3 linked regions of the Homo sapiens genome follow. The main gene of each other region encodes a partner of the protein of the gene in region 3 in a complex. Each region holds a gene or a part of one and is shown on either strand. Other genes may lie near its edges.

Region 1 (3,436 bases), on a different chromosome or scaffold from region 3:
TGAGGGTAGCGGTGGTGATTTAACAGCCACCAAAGGTACCATTCTCTTCTCCTTGCTAGGCTCAGGTTTCTTTTCTTTTTCTGAATGGGGACTCACTATATTACACAGGCTGGTCTTGAACTCCTGGGCTCAAGCAATCCTCCTGCCTCAGCCTTCTGAATGGCTTGGATTATAGGCATGAGCCACCACGCCCAGCAAGGATCAGGTTTTCATCCGTAAAATGAACGGCCCTGCTAGGGGCAGGAATTTATTACTTAGCTCTTACTCTTAAAATCCTTATCCCTGGGATACTCAGTGGTCGGCAGAGAGACCTGGAGGAATAGCTTTTATACTGGAGGTCTGCATTATCCATGGAAAATCAGTAAAAGTCCACTTAGGGGGAATATGCTTATGATGGGAACCAAGCTTAACAGCATGTTGTGGGGGGATAAAGTTTCATCAGGACAATCACAAAAAATAAAATGTGTTTCCTCTTGGAGTTAGCAAACTATATCTGCAACTATGTAATAATTCTCAAATATTTTTACATTTCTACATCTTTTTTTTTTTTTCCAAGACGGAGTCTTGCTCTGTTGTCCAGATGGTGCAGTGGCACCATCTCGGCTCAGTGCAACCTCCGCCTCGGGGATTCAAGCAATTCTCCTGCCTCAGCCTCCCGAGTGGCTGGGATTACAGGCGCGCACCACCATGCCCAGCTAATTTTTGTATTTTTAGTAGAGACGGGGTTTCACCATGTTGGCCAGGCTGGTCTTGAACTCCTGATCTCAGGTGATCCGCCCACCAGCCTCCCAAAGTACTGATATTAAAGGCGTAAGCCACTGTGCCCAGCCCATCTTATTTTTTAAAATGAAGAATGGAGTACTGATGGTGGGGTCAAGATACACTTTTTGACAAAACTGTCCAAGAATAGTCTATGCCATCCTTTACTTTGACTTGCAGGAGTATTACAAAGGATGTAATTTTATGAACATTTTAAAGGTTGTTACCTATCTTCCCAAGACTTCTCTTAATCAAATAATTATATTTTGAGGCACTTTTGTCATTACCTTAAAGACTCTACTCAGGCCGGGTGTGGTGGCTCATGCCTATAATCCTAGCACTTTGGGAGGCCGAGGTGGGAGGATCATTTGAGCCCAGGAGTTTGAGACCAGCCTGGGAAAAATAGTGGGATCCCGCCTCTACAAAAAATTTAAAAATTAGCCAGAAATGGTGGCACACACCTGTGGTCCCAGCTACTTGGGAGGCTGAGGCAGGAGGATCACTTGAACCCAGGAGAGGTTGAGGCGGCAGTGAGCTGTGTTCGTGCCACTGCACTCCAGCCTGGACAACAGAGCAAGACCCTGTCTCAATAAAAAAAAAATATTCTCCTCAAATGTTACCTGGTCTCACTGTCCTGTATCTCTGTATGTGATTGATTCTCCAACACCACTCTCGCCATCTCCATGAAATCCTGTAAGACTTAGAATTACTCTCTGTGAAGTACAGTTGATCTCTGAACAATAGTTTGGACTCTGTGGGTCTATTATATGCAGATTTCTTTTTTTAAAATTTTTTAGAGATAGGGACTCGCATTGTTTCCCAGGCTGGAGTACAGTACAGGCACGATGAATAGCTCACTGCTACCTTGAACTCCTGGACTCCAGTCATCCGCCCACCTCAGCCTTCTGAGTAACTGGGACTATTGGTGCATACCACCACACCTGGCTGATTTTTAAATTTTTTGTAGATACAGGGTCTCTCACTACGTTGCCCAGGCTGGACCTGAACTCCTGGCCTCAAGGGATCCTCCCGCCTTAGCTTTCCAAAGTACTAGGATTACAGTCATGAGTCCCTGCACAGATTTTGTTCAATAAAAATAACAGTGGTGCCTGCCTCCCCCTCCACCTCCCCCACTTTTTCTGCCTCTGCCATCCCTGAGACACCAAGACCAACCCCTCCTCTTCCTTAGACTATTCAACCCTGAGACAGTATGTGAAGACCTTTATGGTGATCCACTTCTACTTAATAGTAGATATATATTTTCTTCCTTATGGCTTTCTTATTTATTTATTTTTGAGACGGAGTCTCACTCTCGCCCAAGCCGGAGCGCAGGAGCGTGATCTTGGCTTACTGCAACCTCTGCCTCATGGGTTCAAGTAATTCTGCCTCAGCCTCCTGAGTAACTGGGACTACAGGCATGCGCCACCACGCTTGGCTAATTTCCATGTTTTTAGTAGAGACAGGGTTTCACCATGTCGGCCAGGCTGGTCTCAAACTCCTGACCTCAAGTGATCCACCCGCCTTGGCCTCCCAAAGTGCTGGGATTACAGACGTGAGCCACTGCACTCAGGCCCCCTTGTGACTTTCCTTATAACATTTTCTTTTCTCTAGTTTACTGTATTGTAAGAATACAGTGTATAAGATACAAAATATATACTGAAAATATGTACTGACTATGTTAGCAGTAAGTAACTACTAATAGCATACTACTGGTCAACAGCAGGCTATTAGTTAAGTTTTTAGGGAGTCAAAAGTTATACACGGATTTTTCAACTGTGCAGGGCAGGGGGTGTTGGTGCCCCTAACCCCTGAGTTGTTCAAGGATCAACTGAGTTTGTCTTCTGTTTGCACTGCACTGTCAGACATTTATAACATCCAACGATCAGAGACAATTTGTCCATCGGCAACCCTGACAGGACTAATGGGAAGAGCGGGTGGGGAGGGAAGAGTTTTGCTTTTTGTGCTCTGCTGCCTTTGGCTTCTCCTACCACCTCTTAACAGCAGGAACTTGGGATAATAAATACAAGATCATGAGGACCTCACCCCGCAAAGCACAAATAGGGTGTGCGTAGACAAGAGGTGAGCATCTCTCTGCAGAATTGGAATCTTTTTCCACTCTGCTTTTATTGGCTGCTGAGAAAAAGTCTCTCTACAAATGCTTTTTCACACTGTGTCACAGCTCCCACCTGCCCTTCCAGACTGCAAAGCCACCTTGCCAGGAACCACAGACAAAGGCCACTGGTCAGGTGACGCTTTTTAATTGGCTGGTGTCTTTGGAGAATATCAAGAGTCACATGTGGGCCAGAGCAGAAAGCAGAAGCCCAGTGCTCAGGGTGAGGCCTTGGGGGAAACAACGGTCTGCGCGGGAGATCAGCGATGGCTGAAGAATCCCTGAGGATGGTTGTATTTAAATGGCTTCATCCTGCTAGGACCCCTAGAGAAATAGGAGAACGGAGTTGTTAATAACACACCTTCTAGGCTGATAAAATAAATTATGGTTCATTCACACAAGGGAAAAAGAAGAGGCAGAGTTACATGACACAGAATGTTGTTGAGAAAAGCATACGGCAGAACAACATATAAGGTGCGATACTATTTTTGTAAAAATGTCTTTTTGTGCTTGCAAATGAGTGAACACAAACTTGGAAAGGCCCTCACTGACAGTGGCACTTCGGGG
Region 2 (6,493 bases), on a different chromosome or scaffold from region 3:
CAAGAGCCAGATGGTAACATTGCCCTTCTTTCCTGCAGACGAAGTTATACGGAAGCGTCTCCTCATTGATGGAGATGGTGCTGGAGATGATCGGAGAATTAATCTGCTAGTGAAGAGTTTCATTAAATGGTGCAACTCTGGGTCCCAGGAAGAGGGGTATTTCATTTTCACTGTTGTTTCCATACCAGTGTCCTAATGTGATTTTAGGCCCTATATTAAGGTCCTGTGAGTAGATCAAATTTTCACTCACCTTAAATGTACAGTGGAGTCAACTCTTAATTAACCAAGAGTAGATTTTCTTGGCCTTTTCTTCTCTTCAAAGGCCTCTCATATGTTTATTAAAACATGGAGAAGGCAGATTGGTAAGGAGAAATGAAGATTAAATTCAGACTCATTAGTTTGGTTACTTTTAGGACATAAGTGTTTAGTAAGATAAAATATCTAAATGGAATTTTCTCCTTTGCTAATAAAAGGCTGCTGCTATGTATGTATATATTAAGTTGGTGCAAAATTAATCGTGATTTCTGCCATTAACTTTAATGGCAGAAATGGCAGAAACCACGATTACTTTTGTACCAACCTGATACACACGCACACACGTATATCTAATCTTTTTTTTTGTGAGACAGAGTCTCATTCTGTTGTTCAGGCTGGAGTGCAATGGCACAATCTTGGCTCACTGCAACCTCCGCCCCCCAGGTTCAAGCAGTACTCGTGCCTCAACCTCCTGAGTAGCTGGGATTATAGGCATGCAACACCATGACTGACTAATTTTTGTATTTTAGTAGAGATGGGGTTTCACCATGTTGGCCAGGCTGGTGTCAAACTTCTAGCATTAAGTGATCTGCCCACCTTGGCTTCCCAAAATTCCAGAATTACAGGCATGAGCTACCACGCCTAACTATATTTATTTATTTTTTAACATAGCAAACTTTTTCTCATTTGAATTTGCTTTCCATATAAATAATTTTATAGAGTGAAAAAATTGTGGGAACAGAATTGTGAAGTTAAAAAAACATCTTAAAGTATTTCTAAAGTCTTTTAAACAAAATTCAAATAATTGTTTGAATAAAATGTGCATTGATAAGAACAACAATCCCACCTTTGCATTTGTAACTAAAGTAGTTAAATTCAAGAATACTACATTTGATAAAAAGAAAACTTAAGGGACAGATATTCTAAATTTTAAATAAGCAAATGATTCTCTCAGAACTTGCTATAATTTAATTAGCAAATATTTGTCTGCATTATAACAGTTCACTTTTGTCAGTCCACAAATATCTTTATTTTGGTTTTCTTTCTTTTTCATTAGATATAGCCAGTACCAACGTATGCTGAGCACGCTGTCTCAATGTGAATTTTCAATGGGCAAAACTTTACTAGTATATGATATGAATCTCAGAGAAATGGAAAATTATGAAAAAATTTACAAGGAAATAGGTAAAGAATCTTAATGTTTCTATCTGTAATTTTATTTTTTATGGTCTAAAGGAAACAATACCTGCTAACAATTTTCTTTGGTGGTAAAAGAATAATAACAATTACTGTATTAATGGAAAGAATACAGTAAATGTTAGCTATAAAAAATGTGTATTCTAAGATGATATAGTACTTTGGGTTACAGCTATTTTTTAAAAATACTAGTGTCTATTTTGTTACCAATAGAGGTTAATTTATAAATGCGTTTTAAAATTAAAAATGGATTATTGATTTTGTTACAACTATCTTTTAAAAAACCTTCTCATATAGAATGTAGCATAGCTGGAGCACATGAAAAAATTGCTGAGTGCAAAAAGCAAATTCTTCAAGCAAAACGAATACGAAAAAATCGCCAAGGTAAGGGTTTTGAGGGATTTAATGTGCAAATACATTATTACTGACTACAGTTTTCATGCAGTTTTTAATGTTGTGAGGTAAAATCTGCAGCCTGAATCAACCTGGATTAAAAAAAATCCAAATTTTAATTCCTTAAAACTATATTATTCTTTAAAATAGAGAAGGAAGTCTGTGTTGAGAAGAATGTTTTTGCTGGATTACATTGATTATCCAAGTATTTCTTTTCTGTTTTTCTCTTTTTTTTTCTTATCCCAGTATTTCTTAAGTATTAAATTTTTACCATCTTGGACCCTTTTGCCTAAATAATGTTATGGTTAATCAGCAGAGGCAATTTACATAAATATACTAGATTTATGGTTTGGGTTTTTTGTTTGTTTGTTTAATAGAGCTACTTTCCAAAAAATGAAATGGAAAAGAATTTAAACTCTGAGTTTTCATTAAGTACAAAGCAAGCAAACATTTCTAGACTGCCTAGAATATCTAATAAGAAGGTTAAAGTTGAGTTTTGTTATAATCTCTTGTTTTTAAGTTAGAGTATACCCTTATGTAGTTCCTAAATACTATTTCAAGATAATTTTTAATGTTAGAGGCACTGCTCTTCTTATAATGTAAATTGAAGAAAAGTAAAAATAAAAAATATAATGTGTAATCACAACTGTTACATTGATATGAAAAACTAGAAGAAAATAGAAAATGTTAATGGTTATTTTGAAGTTGTGGGTTTTTATGGCTTAGGTTCTTTTCTCTGTTTTTGTGTTGTTTTGTTTTGTTTTACATAGGGCATGTATTATTTTGTAATTCAAAAAATTTGTATCCAAAAGAATCATACTTTGAATTAATATGCTCAGTTCTAAAACAATGAATTTTCACTTTTTAATGAACTAATTAAGATGAAGCTTAATTTCCTCTTTTTACAAGTTTTTTTTTTCAGTTTAAAATGTGTATGGTGAAGTTTTGGTGCCTTATTTACAGTAACATATACCAACTTAGTATCAGTTCTAAAGTCATCTAAAAATATTTTGCAGTGTTTTCGTTGGTTAATGAGGCTTTTAAGTAAATCCTGCCACTCATCACTTCATAAGAAAGCTTAACAGGAGTTACATGACTTATCTTGGAGGTCTCAGTGGAGCAGAAAATAGAACCTGAATTTTAAGTTATTTGCAAGTTTCTGAAATCTTAACTTTTGGAATGAGTGAGAAGTGTAATTTGCTGTTGACTAACAACTCAGATTAATGGTAGGATATATTCACTGATTGTATTTTATTTTATTTTACTTTTTGGACAACTAGTGAGTAAGATCCTTCTCAGAATCAGTCTATTTGATAATCAATAATAACTTAAATTTGCTTATGCTTATGCTGACCTCTTACGTTCTGTCCAGGACATATAAATGGAAAAAAAGTGGGAGCTAAAACCCCTGTTTGGAACACTTTTGATGTTATGTATCGTTATAATTATAACTCAGTTAACTAAAACTGGCAATACTCATCTTTCAGTGATTTCATTTCTTGATGTACTAGGAAAGTGATTAGGAGAGGTTTGTGATATTACACATTTTGTTTTGATAATTCACATTCAAAAAATCCTTAGTTTGATAAATATTTTTATGTCTTACAGAATATGATGCTTTGGCAAAAGTGATTCAGCACCATCCAGACAGGCATGAGACATTAAAGTAAGTGTAGAGCTTTACTTTGAAAGGAACTAACCTTTATACATAAATGCTCGAAAACTACCGTAGGCATTTCATTTTTGCAGAAATAAATATGTTTCAAAAGGAGGGGTCAGATATTCAATATTATATTTTCCCATACTTCTCTGTTAGATTTTATTTTCCTCTAACCTTACCAGCTATATGTCTAAAATAAATGCATATAATATGCATCAATATCACAATGGATAAATAGAATATGGTCTTCATATATTAAAATATTGAATTTCAGTTAAAAAGAATAAACTAGTTATGCCCTTTTAAAACACAGCTCTCAAAACATAATCAGTGAAAAGACACATAATAAACTTTAAATTATATTTAAATTCCTGAAACACATACAGAATAATAACCATTTATAAAAGTTAGAACCCCCTTTCAAATATTATATACCAATACTGTGTATTATTCAGGGATACAAGTATATGCATAAAAAAGAATAAGAATGATATAGTAGTTGCCTGAGTGGGAGGTAGAGGAGATAAAAAGGCCCAGGATAGAGGACTAGGCGTAAGATTCAAAGGGTATTTCGAGTTAATTGGCAATGTTTTATTTCTTTTACCAAAATAAAAAACCCTCGAAGTTAAACTTCACAATATGTATCATTTCTTGGGTCTTGTTATTCTGTTATCTGTATTTTTCTGTACTTTAAAAATGGATCCAAAAATGTAATTTTAATGAAAGTGAGTCCATATTTAGAAGTTAAGAAGAAATCATCCTCAGCTTTAAAAGTTTCACCATAATGGAGTGTTATAACTCCTTATAAGCCCTTTTTTTATTTTAAAAATCCTATCTAGTAACTTAAAAGTTAGGCATTAATTGTAAACTCTTCTCCCCCATTCAGCAAAATGTAACACTGTTTTATTATTTCCAGGGAACTAGAGGCTCTGGGAAAAGAATTAGAGCATCTTTCACACATTAAAGAAAGTGTTGAAGATAAGGTATTCGCATATATATTTAGCCTTCATGATCTGTCTATCTGTCTGTCTATATATCTATATATACAGGTCATTTGTATAAATTTTTTTCTTGTTAACACAGCTGGAATTGAGACGGAAACAGTTTCATGTTCTTCTTAGTACCATCCATGAACTTCAGCAAACATTGGAAAGTAAGTAGAAATAGTCTCAAAGTAAATGCTTATGAAGATTTTTTAAATGACCCAGGGATGTACCTTTTGAAATATACATCTTGGAGAGACAGTATACCTTCAATTTCTGAACAGTGTAGCTGGATGACGTTAGAAGGTACTCATGTTCAACTTTCTTGAATACATGTAGAAAAGTCTTAATTTGTAGTAATATAGGATTTAAACATATACATAGTGGTTTAAATTAAGAAAAATTCAAGGATGATAGATTTGGAATCTTTCTTGGTTCACTGTAGTTGACTACTATAATATAACAACTCAGGACCCAGGCAGGCAATAATAAGAAATCAGTACATACGAACATTTGCATACCCACTGAGTAGTGGGTGCTTTGGGGAACTGGAGACTTGCTCTTTATATTCACTATAGGCAAGTGGAAATTTTTGTGTTACCTGATCTTCTGATTGTTTTAAAGAATAGCCTAAGACCCATTTTTTCTTTTCTTTTTTTTTTTTTTAAGACAGTCTTGCTCTGTCACCCAGGCTGGAGTGCAGTGGCACAATCTTGGCTCACTGCAATCCTCACCTTGCAGGCTCAAGTGATTCTCCTGCCTCAGCCTCCCTAGTAGCTGGAATTACAGGTGCATGCCACCACACCCAGCTAATTTTAGTATTTTTAGTAGAGACGGGGTTTTACCATGTAGGCCAGGCTGGTCTTGAATTCCTGACCTCAGGTGATCCACCTGCCTTGGCCTCCCAAAGTGCTGGGATTATAGGCATGAGCCACCAGACCCTGCCTGGATTTTTTTTTTTTTAAGTGAAGTCTATCACATAAATTTTAAAGTTTGATTCAACTAGTAGCCATCTTAGCTTTAATTGTATTGGCTAATAAAGGATAAACATGTTTTCATGTGTTCATCGAATATAAAATATAGGCAAACTTGACTAAGGTTTTATGTTTCCTTCTCAATTACAGATGATGAAAAACTCTCAGAGGTAGAAGAAGCTCAGGAAGCAAGCATGGAAACAGATCCTAAGCCATAGACAGGCTAATTGCCCACCACTCCCAGGAATATTGAAATAGCTACATGACCATAATGTGTTTAAAATGTGGTATGCTCTTGAGATATTTAAAGTTTTGGCAGTAAAATACTCTGTTTTTAAGTATGAATGTATTTCATTCATATTTCCTCTCACAAAGGAAAATGACTTCAGTATAGATTTGTTTTTATTAAAATGCATTTTTTATTCTTAAGTGGTAGGAAGCAACATCCAAAAATGCTTAATAAAATGCTTTTAAGCTGCATATGTTTGTGCTCATTAATATTCTAGGTAGTTTTTAACTGGTAACATTGATTGGCTTACAAAATAAGTTGAAAATTGTTAGAAGTTGGCATTTCTAGGATGTACATGGGAAAATGAGCCAATTTCTGGAAATGGTTACACTTCTGAAAACGGAGTCTATGAAGAGGCTTTAGGAGGACCATGAACCTGTGAAATTACATGCAAAATGTTAGTGGTGTATGCTTATTGTGGAGAGAGGTTCCAGGCTGTTAAAATTCGCTGGTATGGGACGTTAATTATAAGATGCAAAGTAAAATAGTGCACATTACTTTATATATCTCTCCTTAATATGAGAGGAATATGGTTCTCAAATGTTTTGTTGATCTGTTTTCTCTACTGTTTTGTTCTTTAGGAATCATTTTCAATAGAAAAAGATGTATTGATAAAGTGAAGAGTGTTTGAAGTAAATAGTTTGTTAAGATTGTTTTGCGTAGGCCAGGCATGGTGGCTCACACCTTTAATCCCAGCACTTTGGAAGGCCGAGGCGGGCAGATCACCTGAGGTCAGGAGTTC
Region 3 (6,285 bases):
AACTTCTGGAAGGATATACATCAAAATTCTAATAGCAGTTACCTCTTGGTGCTAGGAATGTAATTTTTCTTTTTGCTTATCTTTTTCCAAAATTTTCTACCAACACTATTTCTATATGCCTCAATATTTGCTTTAACACCAAACAAAATTACAATATAATGAAAAACCACTGCTCTTAGGTAACAACCCTCCAAACATAAGCCCTTTTTTTTAGAGGGAAGAACTAATAAAGCTTTGCTTTCCATGAGGAACCAATAAGTGTTTTTCTTTTCAATAAGAAAGCTAAATGACTTACTCCCCTCTTCACTTTGCCACCAGGAAGCTCAGAGCCAAAATTTTAGTTTGGTCATTCAATTAGCTTTGTCCCTATATTTCAGAGGCTTCTTGGTTGGGACATTAAATGACAGAATTATAACATTTAAATTCTCTTTCTGAAATTAAAAAAAAAAAAAATACAAAACTGCAACTCAAGGACATAATAATTTTAAAAGTCTTAGAAGTTCCATAATAACAAAAGTCAGTTTATTAAATGCTCAATTCTCAAAATTATATATATATATTTTTAATTATTTAAAAAAACTTCCATGCCCTTCCATTCCCCTCCCTCCAAACTAGGTATTGTCCAAGTTGTATCAAATGCCACAAAGTCTACCATGCACCCAGAAGCAGAGAAGACAGGAGGTCCAGAGGACAAGGTATGGTGGGGTCACTACTCGCACTGCAGAGTCCACGCGAGTTAACTCATGCTGGGGGCAAAGAATGGAAAGAGCTAATACACAGACAAAGCAAAAGAATGAAATGCGCAGCCTGACCAGAGACGTTTACAATTTATACCAACTTACAAATATTTAGGGTGCCCACCAACTCCGAGAGAACAGACCAAACTAACCACATGAAGGAAGACCTCTGCCGGGGCCTCCTCTCCCTACAACCTCCTCTCAAGAATCATTAGGAAGCCCAAACAGCTTCACAGTTCCGGCTTCCCGGCTGCTGTCATATTTGCCGTCTTTGTCATCACAGGCAAATGCCAGCAGAGGCCTTTTGGGGTGCCACGCCACTGTGAAGGTCGGAGACTCACACTGTACCTCCCATAGTTTGTCCCCTACAGAAAACAATAGAGAGAAACCAATCAATACGTTCAAAACGAAGGACACATTCATTAAGTACTTACCAGTATTAACTGGTTTAATCCACCTACTAATCCCATGAGATAGATACAACTATTACCTCATTTTACAGAGAACCCCCAGGCACAGAGAGCCCACAAGCCAGTGGAGGACAGAGCCGGTTCTGAGCACAGGTGGGTTAACTCAAGAGCAGGTCACTGAGCAGGAAAGTGTCTCCGCGTCACAGGGACATGCAGTTACATGAAGGATCTGCATGGCTGGATGCTGGACAATGTTCACCACAACGTGACTAACAGGGGCATGCATTCTTTACATAGTGGAATTTCAAGTTCTTTACTTTCCTCTTCGAAGTTTTCTATACAGTTTTAATCTTTTTACGAAGAGTGTCAAAGATTTCCAAAAACAATAAAGCAACATTAAAAAACAAATCTGAGGAAATTCTTTTGCAAAATGAATACTCTCCTCCCATTTTTCTATTTCCAGCTTCTGTTGTTTTTAAAGCAAAAACTTTATAATTCCTCAAATTTTAAATAATATTTTTTCAAGTTCATATACAGGCAAAAGATAAAGAGAAATATATCACAACATTTAAAACAGGTGGTATTTAGAGAGTGGGACCCCAAGTGGTGCTTTTTTCTTCCTTCTACTCTGTAGTTTAAAGTTTAAATAAATCAAAATATTTTTCTAAATCACTTTCCTCAGACCTGCCTGTTTATTTCTTAACTCTTTGCTTCCTCACCACCTGGCAGTGACAGTCAAAACAGAAACATACTTGTCTAAAGGAGACAAATTCATTCATGATCATGCTGGTGAAGTAGTCACATGCAGAGATGAGATCACAAGAGAAGTCCTGACTGCCAAAGGTGAAAGACGGTAGATTCTCATGAAGTTACCTGTCTCCACTTCAGCAATGTCAATAAAATGATCTTCCGATGCTGACGCCAGCATTTTCCCATCATGGCTGAAACTGAGGGTTCTTACAGGCCAATCCAGCCTATGATACAGAGTGGACAGAAGAGACAAGAGAATTACCAAGTAAGAGGAGGGAACAATGTCACTCAAGATGAAATAAAATTAATGTACCCAACAAGGGAAGTGCTGATAGAGTCACTTACCTGGAAAAGCACCGAACACACACTAACTCATCCACATCCCAGAGGCTGACCAAAGCATCTGCACTTCCTGTGGCAAAGTACTTCCCCATGGGGTCAAACTTGATACAGATGCAGTTGGAAGGATGGGCGTTGATGGACTGCACAGGCTTCAGTTCTGGGTAGCTGAGAAAAAAGACAGCGATCAAACTGCAGAAGAGGACTGTGGTGCTGAAACAATAATAGGAGATGATGAAGAAGAAAAGCAAAGATAATAGACCACCACCAAGAACTGTCATTCAAGATAACATTCCTGAAATAAAAAAAGATTTTGAACTACATTATTTAAAAAGCACAACACATACCTGAGACTACAGAACCAAAGTTACCAACATCGAGACAGAGACTAGCAAAACTAGTGGACTTTAAAGAAAAAGAAAATTAGATTATTGGGCTTTCTGACAGCAACACTTAATGCCAAAAGAAAATGGAGTACCATATTTAAGAAAGATACACAAGCGAGAAAACGAGCCAAGGATTTTTACATCCAGCAAAACTGAATTTCAAATATAATGATACAAACAATAAGCACAATAACGTTTTATAAAATCTGTAAGTTTTAGAAGTACGTAAATAAGTTGTAATAAAAACTCCAGGAATAATGTTCCCATGAACGCTTCCCGAGGAATCTTAACTAGAGAATGAGCTTCAATTAAAAAAATGACTAGAGACTTATAAGGACTGGTGCTCAACACTGAATATACAGTTTCTTGCAAAAACTATACATGGTTTAAAGAGAGGGTATAATATGTAACATCTGCACATGCTTACAACATATAGTACTATTTTTTTAATGGGGGAAGAATGGAAAGAGTATATGCAAAAACCAAAAACATTTTTTGTTTCAAGTCATCACATTGGTGGTAGCAGCAGTAATATTGTTGTTCTGAGACATCTATATGTTTACCATGGGAGATAGGTAATAAGTAACCATCGGATATTCTAATTCTATGATCCCCTGTGCCCTTGAGAACCAGAATACTCAATTTGGGAGGAAAGAAATATATTTGTAATATAGAAGAGGTTTAGTAAAATCCCTGGAGTCCTCAATTTTGATTGCAAGTTATCAACATGAATTCATAAGGTATTTTATCTTTAAATATATATATATATACACACACACACACACACACACGTAATTCCTAGGCCAACCCAGCAGTAATGAACATTCCTAACTTCAGTATCATTTCTCAGTAAAAGAATGTAAGGCTCCTTTTTTTTTTTTTTTTTTGAGGTGGAATCTCACTCAGTCGTCCAGAATGCTGGAGTGCAGTGGTGCAATCTAAACTTACTACAACCTCCGCCTCCCGGGTTCAAGCGATTCTCCTGCCTCAGTCTGCCAAGCAGCTGGGAATATACACGTGCGTCACCACGCCCAGATAATTTTTGTATTTTGAGTAGAGACAGGGTTTCTCTATGATTGCCAGGTCTCAAGTGATCCACTCGCCTCGGCCTCCCAAAGTGCCAAAGTGCTGGGATTACAGGCGTGAGCCACCGCACCCAGCCAGAATGTTAAGGCTTCTTGGAGAATGTTCTGATTAAAGGTCTGGGGCAAGAAATGCACAAGATGAACTTGGAACATCTTATCAAACCAGAGAGCAAAAAAACAGAAGACGATGGGATTATGTCAAAAAAGGTCTCAGGAACCAACTTGAAGAGGTTCTTATTGGCCAAAGATGGGATAATTTGAGCTTCAACAGGCGTAACAATTACAAGAGATGGAAACACACCAACTATGTTTAAAAACATCAGCCCGTAATGATTCTTTAAAAAAAAAACACCTAACTGCTCATCTTTGGAGGTAGCAGGAAACAAAATCATTATCTGACAAACAGAATCAAAATTTTATCCTGCCTTCCCTACATGAACTACACTACTGGGTAACCAAATCGCAGATGAGAAGCAGCATCTCTTTACACAACAGTCCAACACATAAACAGCATATGGAATCAGCAAAAGCCAAACTGGGAGAATCTCCACAGGTTAACAGTCTGGTTTTTCAACAGCTACGTTTTCGGAAGTTTCTTTTGAGTAATTTAAGAGATACAAAAGACATATCAATTTTTTTTTTTTTTAATGAGCAAAACTAGGGTATCTAGGGGCTGCACATGTGGTAGATAAACTATGAAGAAACACTATAAAAGTCAGGATAGTGTTTGCTTTTGTGGAAGGAAGTTGTAATTAGGACAAATCACCTGGATGGACTTCTGGGATGGCTGGAAAGAACTACTTCTCAACTTGGGCGGGGTTGCACAAGAGTTAAGCCTATAAGAGTTCATTAAGCTATACATTTATTTTATGTGGTTTTCAATATCTGTGTTTTATAATAAAAAGATTTTTCTTAAAAAGTTATAGAATCCCCATTGCCTACAAAATAAAACCCAAGATACTAAGCATAAAATAAAGGCCTTTTATAATCTGGTCCCAAATTAGACTTCATCTTCCCATTATCATGCCCTCTCTTATTTCCCTTATCTGCCACCACTCCCCCAACAACCCTGACCTAACCACTCTCCAAGTAAGTCATGCTCACTCACACCTGCTTTGTCAGTTATGTGGTTCCCTTTTGCTTATTCTTAAAATTCTGCTCATCTTTCAAGATCAAGCTCACAAGCTCCCTCCTTCAACCCCCCATATAGTATGTCTGTTCTTTCCGTGGAATTTCACAGCAAACTCCTGGCCTCCCACTCACAGAACCTATCTCACTTGGTCTTGCATTGTTCACCTGGGATAGTGGAAGGCTAGAATTGAACAGACCTGAATTTCAGCTCCACAGTTTCATTCATTTACAGAACAAATATTTACTAAGATCCTACTACGTGGAGCAGGTACAGGACTAGACATTAGGGACTCAACACTAAACAAGGCAAACACCATCCCTACCATCAAGGAATTCACAGTCTAACAGGAGACACAGGCAAATAAACATGCAATTACAATATAGAAAGAAAAGTGCTTCCTACAGAAAGTATATAAAATACGCCTCTAACCTACCTCTAACCTTGGGGTAGCGGGGGAGCTTCCCTGAAGGCAAAGTGATATTTCAGTTGAAACTTTAAGAGTACGAATTAGCCAGAGGTCGGGCTAATCACCTGAGGTCGGGAGTTGGAGACCAGCCTGACCAACATGGAGAAACCCTAAACTACAAAAAATACAAAATTAGCCAGGTGTGGTGGCACATGCCTCTAATCCCAGCTACTTGGGAGGCTGAGGCAGGAGAATCGCTTAACCTCGGAGGCAGAGGTTGCGGTGAGCCAAGATCACACCATTGCACTGCAGCCTGGGCAACAAGAGCAAAACTCTGTCTCGAAAAACAAAAAAAAAGGGAGTACGAATTAGCCATAATTCAAGGTGCATCCAGTTCTAGCACACACTAGCTGACTACTGATGTAACCTCTCACCCTCAGATCCTCATCTGTCAAATGAGAAGCAAATCATCAACCCCTAGAATTTCTGTAAGGACTCAGTAAAATATAAAGTATATAAAATATACAGCTCAAATGTACTTAAGACAGGTTAGGATTCTCTCTTACTATTTGTGTTTTAAGCTCCTTCAGGATAGGCTCACATCTAATTCATCTCCATATCTGACACAGCACCCAGCACAAAGACATGACAGTCCCCTAAGCTAGACCCCCTCACCTGAGGATGTTGATACAACCATTGCCATTTGTCAGGAAGAACATATTATTGTCATTGTTCCAGGAGATTTCGTTGACCTCGAACTTGAACTGCTCTTCTGCTTTGGAACGGTGTGTCTTGGCATCAATAAAGGTCACCACATCATCCTTGTTGCCTACAGCAATGGTCTGCCCATCAGGACTCCAGCAGATATTAATGTTCTCCCCTGGGAACCCAGACATAATCAGCAAGATAATCTGTTTGCTCATAATCTTCCACAAGTTTATTGCACTATCCTAGAAAGAAGACCAGAGCTTTCTTCCGGGCTTACTCATTAAAGTCCTAGACAATGGAAGGGAGCTACCACTTATGATTCAACAATAAGT

Evidence for each region. Proteins that work in one complex are often made in the same cells at the same time.
Region 1: THOC3 (region 3) and THOC5 share a complex: the UniProt entries of both Homo sapiens proteins name them as parts of the transcription/export (TREX) complex.
Region 2: THOC3 (region 3) and THOC7 share a complex: the UniProt entries of both Homo sapiens proteins name them as parts of the transcription/export (TREX) complex.

Annotation. Positions count from the first base shown.
Region 1 is NC_000022.11:29,505,328-29,508,763, forward strand, and holds the end of THOC5 (THO complex subunit 5), read right to left. Parts: intron 3,194-3,436; coding exon 3,130-3,193; 3' UTR 552-3,129; downstream 1-551. UniProt on the Homo sapiens protein: Component of the THO subcomplex of the TREX complex which is thought to couple mRNA transcription, processing and nuclear export, and which specifically associates with spliced mRNA and not with unspliced pre-mRNA.
Region 2 is NC_000003.12:63,833,319-63,839,811, reverse strand, and holds the end of THOC7 (THO complex subunit 7), read left to right. Parts: intron 1-38; coding exon 39-156; intron 157-1,312; coding exon 1,313-1,440; intron 1,441-1,749; coding exon 1,750-1,836; intron 1,837-3,453; coding exon 3,454-3,511; intron 3,512-4,421; coding exon 4,422-4,488; intron 4,489-4,588; coding exon 4,589-4,658; intron 4,659-5,612; coding exon 5,613-5,680; 3' UTR 5,681-5,942; downstream 5,943-6,493. UniProt on the Homo sapiens protein: Component of the THO subcomplex of the TREX complex which is thought to couple mRNA transcription, processing and nuclear export, and which specifically associates with spliced mRNA and not with unspliced pre-mRNA.
Region 3 is NC_000005.10:175,959,031-175,965,315, forward strand, and holds the end of THOC3 (THO complex subunit 3), read right to left. Parts: intron 6,126-6,285; coding exon 5,921-6,125; intron 2,405-5,920; coding exon 2,243-2,404; intron 2,122-2,242; coding exon 2,021-2,121; coding exon of another isoform or gene 1,929-2,020; exon of another isoform or gene 1,160-1,928; intron 1,103-1,159; coding exon 939-1,102; 3' UTR 501-938; downstream 1-500. UniProt on the Homo sapiens protein: Component of the THO subcomplex of the TREX complex which is thought to couple mRNA transcription, processing and nuclear export, and which specifically associates with spliced mRNA and not with unspliced pre-mRNA.